Regions from separate parts of the Homo sapiens genome. Here region 1 is linked to region 2. Evidence: fine-mapped expression QTL. A gene starts in region 2. The other region holds a variant in brackets. All regions are shown on one strand. Distances are between the middles of the regions. Region 1 overlaps PART1 (prostate androgen-regulated transcript 1). Region 2 holds the start of PART1 (prostate androgen-regulated transcript 1).

Evidence for each region. PIP is the estimated chance that this variant, and not a neighbour inherited with it, causes the effect.
Region 1: its variant is fine-mapped to the expression of PART1 in aorta (GTEx, PIP above 0.99).

Annotation. Positions count from the first base shown.
Region 1 is chr5:60,540,493-60,543,419 of GRCh38, forward strand. The region is part of intron 3 of PART1 (prostate androgen-regulated transcript 1); the gene reads left to right. Among named protein-coding and RNA genes, the nearest start is that of PART1, 54 kb to the left of the region's middle. The variant G/A (reference allele first, on the strand shown) is at 1,157.
Region 2 is chr5:60,486,341-60,489,267 of GRCh38, forward strand. It overlaps PART1 (prostate androgen-regulated transcript 1), which reads left to right and starts at 1,373. Exons shown (of 4, transcript NR_024617.1): 1 at 1,373-2,083. It also overlaps a transcript of PDE4D not described here.

The DNA.
Region 1 (2,927 bases), 54 kb after region 2:
CTTTCCGTTATGTTTGTCCTTTAGAATCTTTGGTACCAGCAGCATCAGCATCACATGGCAGCTTATTAGAGATGCAGAATTTTAGGCTCCTCCCCAAGCCCCAGAAGCAGCACAGGAATCTGCATTTAACAAGATCCCCAGATATTCATATGCACATAAAATTTGGGAAGCACCACTGTGGATCTCAGTTCAAGCACCAATTTGCTTCACTGATCAATCACATCAGGTTCCTGTTACGCATACTCATAAAATGATCCTTCAGAGCTCTCGCTCTGTAGCTGTGCATTTATTATGATAATTTTTTTCCTATTCCTGTGTATCTCTCTCACTAAACTAGTGTCAGGCTCTATGGCTTATCCCACAACCAATCAATAAATATTTGCCAAATGACTAAATGGATGTGCAAAATTCATATTTGTATCTGAGTATTTTTAAAGCCAGTTGGCACTGCCCATTCTCCTGCTAGTGGTCTCCCTGCCTCAGACTCATCCATGACTGCATCAGCCTTGGACTCCTCAGCCCAGCTCTCAGACTGGCCCTTCCAGAAGTGAGTGAGTAAATGAAGGAAAAAATGACATTGCTGAAAAATCCAAGAAATTTCATCATTCAGACCGCAGTTCCTCAACATCTCACATATCTGTAAATGCCACAGAGAGATTGTTTCCTGAGTGCTATTTTGGAAAATATAATCACGATTTTTGTGTGGGAAGAAAAGACACTCCCCACAGACATCAGAGCAGACACATCCCCCCAGCCCTAGTCCACAGAGGGTATATTGCAGGAAAGTCTTACTGAAAGAAAGAGGGGCTACAACAGGGCTGGATGGGTGCTGAAGATGCTGAACTCAGGCAATGGAATTGCTTTTGTCAGTTGCCCTCACCAGGTGTGGCTGTATGACTGAAATTGCCAGTCTCCCCTGCTGGTGGTAGGGACTGTTTTGATTAACCAAGTAGAAGGTGACGGTTTAAAACTAGTTTCCCAATTTGGGTAATTAAACCTCTGCTAAATATAGTAGGTTTAAAATGAATGTTCACAACATTGAAACAGAACATGCTAATTCTAAAAATACAGACTCCCTTGCTGTGAAAGACCTCTCAGGGGAGAACCGACATTGAAGCAAAACAATGATTTCATCCCTCCCGCCCACCATCCCCCA[G/A]CCTGTGAACCAATTTGTTTGAAGAGATGAGGCTCACCACACTACAGCAAAGGAACCAGAGCTGTTACCAGACACTAAGGAAACTAATCACAGAAAGTCAAAGGAAGAAAGGTTACAAGGCTGAAATTTCTTTTTGTGGGATCCTGTCCTGCACCAAAACAGGCCAACCAGCACTTCTTATGTCTACTCCATACAAGGTATATAAAACTCAAGTTAGTGGGGAAAGGAATTTTCATTAAGTCACTTAGAAATGAGAGACATGCAAATGAGAGAAACTGACTTTCTTTGAAGAAAGTGTAAACTTTCTAGGAAGCCTCTTTCCTGAATAATTAAATCACAGAGAACCTTGACTCTCTGTGGACTCAAAAGCAATTACACCCAGTTCTTAAACAGAGCTGTTCCCTCATCATAAAATCCCCTGTGCATTTCCCTCTGTATAACAACAAATGGTCCACAAACCTCCTTCAAAGAGTTGTCCTCACTTGGTGACTCCACTTCTCTCCCTGTTCTCTTTTATCTCATTCCAACCACAGAAAAAGCTTGTATTGAGGTCACATGCCTTCATGTTGCTCAATCCAGTGGTCAGTCCTTTCATATCAGCAGCATGTGACAAGACTAATGACTCCCTGCCTGAAAAATCTTCCCTTTTCATTCATTTGGCGTTTAGCCTACCATCCCCTCTTCTTTGTACTCTGACCTCAGTAGGGACGACTTTGCTGGAAAAGAAATTTAGAATTTGATTATGTGTGACCTAATCTCCAGTACCCATGTATTCTATTTTTGAAAGACTTGAATTTTCAATTATATTTGTAACAAAACCGTGTATGTGGAAATGATGGAATAACAGCCTCTTTTTTTCCAAGATGATATGTGCATCTTCAGACCTTTATACAGATGAGCTCTTTACCTCCATCTTCTAAAACTATTAATTAATCCAGAGAAGTGTGTTGCTATAAAATATTCTGTGAAGCATTTTCACTTATTTTTCTTTTCTTTCAAAGAAAACAATATGGCCCAGTTCCTGGCTTTTGAAGAACTAGAGAAAATCATCATCATTGGTGCCTCCAAGGCTCTTTGGTTGGTTCTGCAATCATAGGAACCCTTACCTGGTCTCCTGAGACATTCTCCTCTCTCCACACCATAGTACAACACCACCCACACACCTGATGGCAGAGCTTTTAGGTGAGCTTCTCCATCTTCTGGCTTAGAGTTACCCAGGAATAAAGAATAGCTCCTGTAGCTCTGAATCCTTCAAATCCCCCGATTGGCCCTTAACTGACTTCCTTAGTGAATCTGCAGACTTTTGGATGGGAGACAAATATGCACAAACTATACCTACAATTCAATGTAGGACAAAGGCTACCTGGTACAATATTAATATGTGCCTGCATTGGAGATTTTGGAATCTTAGGACTTAAAGAAGGGTCTAATTCGATTACCTCAGTTCCAGATGAGAAAATGAAGGCCCAGAAAAGCAAGTGATTTGCCTAAGATCTCACAGTGACCAGTGAAGGACCAGAGCTGGACTAGGCTCTCCCGTCAGCAGTTAGGGCTCTTCCCAGTGTCCTTCCTCTTCCACATGCTACTTGCCCTTCACTTTATAGAGTCCTATCTTCTGCAGGGAAATGCATTGATACAGTCCCCTGTGCTTTGATCTTGGTGTTACAGTTACATCTCTAGAGGATTCTTATATAGCATAGTATGTTTCACAGTTGGTCATCATTGGAACTCTCTGTTTTTCTGTGCTCTTGCCTGGACTTCTTTCAAAAGG
Region 2 (2,927 bases):
TCAATAAATGAACTCATTATACTGTTTCTTCATGAAGTAAATGTGTTTCTAAAGGAATGTATTAAAATTACATTTTTAAAAATCTATGTATTTTGCATATATTTGATTGATACAGAAAAGGAGTCTACGTTGGCTACTTTTCTTTCTTTCTACAAACTTCATTCATTGGTGTGATCTGAAAGGGGATAATATTTCAGAAAGCAAAAATATTTTTAACAACAAAACTTTGTATTTCCAGTGTGATCTAAACACAAAATTATGCAAAACACAACTAATATTTCTCTCCTACTGGCTAAATCATGCCAGTTGTTTAGGTGCAATCAAAAATAAGCCACTAATGTTATTTTTATAGGAATTGGCAAGTAATTGCCAACTATAGCTATTAAAAGTTTATATTTGCCACAGGAGCCTGTGATTTTAAATACTGTTCAAATGATTTATGCTTGAGAGTTATACATAGCACAAATACATACATTTGTATCTACAGGTCTAAAGAGGAAAAATTAGACAAAAAGCAACTTGAAAAGGAACCCCTTTATTTTTAATGACCTACCTTTGTGCTGTATTGAGAAAAAGTATAAAAATTATTTGGGAGGAAGAAAAATATTTCTAAGCACTAATTTCATAGGCAAAAGCCCTATTATTTTTTATGATAGGCTAGGGGAAATCAATAATGATTTAAAAGCAAACAGTAAACTGCTCACATTTACCAGTCTATACTCAGTATTAATTCTACCCTGCAGTGTATGCTATAGAAGGTAATGAAATGCTGATGTTTTCTGGTTTTCCACTTCAATCTGCTCCAGCTTTATCCTAAACCTTGTCAGCAACAGAAGTTACCCCCCAGCAATCATACAAACCTAATAACGGCTTCCCTGGCTTAATTTGATCTGCTCCAATCACAAATTCCAATCCACATACTTTCTTCTGTTATGGTTGTGTCTGTATGTGTTTAATGTACTTTTTATAAGGCTTTTTTACAACAAGCGCATGGTTTTTCATTCAGCCCTCTACCACATAAACAGAACCACTGAAGAGCATTTTTGTTCATATAAAAATGTTTTAGTTATTCATAGTGTATGTCTTCAATTGGCTGCAGATTACAGTGAACAAAAGTATTGCTGCCATCATTTTACATTTCTCCTGTTACTGTGCCCTATCTGCTGTGTACCCCTGTCCCCAAAGCATTTATTATAATATTTGCTGCTTGCTCTCAGTTTTGGACTGAGATGCTTGGGGGTGGGAAAACTTAAAACTTGCCTGACTCAAGTGCTCTCTAAGCTTTGATCCCAGCATCCTGCTTTAACCTGCTCCTGTTGGACCTCTGCCACTTTACTGACCCCATAAAACAAACAGAGCTAGCAAATGCATCAAACAGCCTCCTTCAAAATGCAGCTTGACTGTGATTCATGGCACAAAGCTGGAATAACCCTGCCAGTTCTTAGAAGCTTTAAGATTCATCGTCTTGAACTTGATACACATAGTATAGCACCTTAAAAACGAATCATCTGCTAGTTCAGTATTTTCTACTTACAATCACTCCCTCCCAGGGCATGTAATTAATTTACTGAGCTTAAAAAAAAAATATCAGGATTACTCACACAGTCTTGAAGATGCAATGTCAGCTATTTAGGACAGAAACATCCAAGGCCGTGTCAGAACTCAATTACGACTACATATGCATTAAGGCAGGAACTGGCAGGCCTCAGGGTACGCCAACTATAGGACTCGTGCTTCTCGTACGCTGGGCTATAATCTATGAAACTGAGCTCCAGAGCCAGCCAATCACTTAGCTCCTCATAACAAGTCTAACTGGCTCTGGAAAGCTGAAAGGGCTGCACTGGAACAACACAGATGAGATATTCTACACATTAATCTACTTATCTGGAATCACTTTGCCTCTAAAGGCCAGAGAAAAATCACAGCTTCCTTGTCGGAGGGGAAAAGGACAGGTGATCTGGGGAAAACGCAGCTACACCTGGAGCAAGGTCTCTTCCCGGCTTGGCAATCTCAGCTGTGCCGGCGCTACGGGACCCGAGCCGTCCCAGAAACCAAAGGGCAGGCACGGCAGCAAACGCCTGAGGTAATTTTCATCTTTCTTTTTATTTTTAGTAGAATAATGCAGACTGAAAGTGATAAGCATAAAGTCGCTGAGGCAACTAGATATGCTTCGATTTTATTTTACATTTTCCTATTCTAATCGTGTGCAGGATCATTTGTTATGAAGTCTGAGGAGGGGGAGAATTAATGTACCTGAAATAAACTTGAAACTAAAACGATCATTTGTGGAGGAAAATACAGGATTTTCCAGAACAGTTTCAGAGCTACCTTTGCAGATGGGTAGGCTTTTCACCCACCCACAGAAAGAAGAGTCAACGGGGCTGAGACAGGACAGGGATGGGTTTCAGGAGCACAATTAAAAGTTTTTCGTATCTTAAAGAAAATATCTATGTTCAGAGAGAAAATTGAGAAGATAAGTTACTGCCCAGTTCCTCTGGTCTTTGACACTTAGACCACATAAGAATGTTCCATGGTAGAAGGGTTGGGACAGAGAATCTTAGGAATCCTAAGAGAGAATCAATACTGCTCCCCTACCCCAGGTTTTTCTTGTTTTCTTTACAATAGTATCCTTATTTCCCATTACATTTTAGTGTTAGTCATACCAATTACTTGTTACACCATACTTCTACATTTGCAGTTATTAAAGGATCTGCAGAAAACATTTTAAAGTCAAAATGATTATAGAGGCAACTAAAATAAGAAAGCAAAAAAATATGTGAAACTGACATACACATAACCAGAACACCACACCCCTTAGATACTTAATGTACTTAACCCAATGACAAATCCTTCCAAATCCTTAGCAAATTGTCTGTTTCTTTAATACATTTTGTAGCAAGTGTAACATTAGCAACGAAGAAAAACTT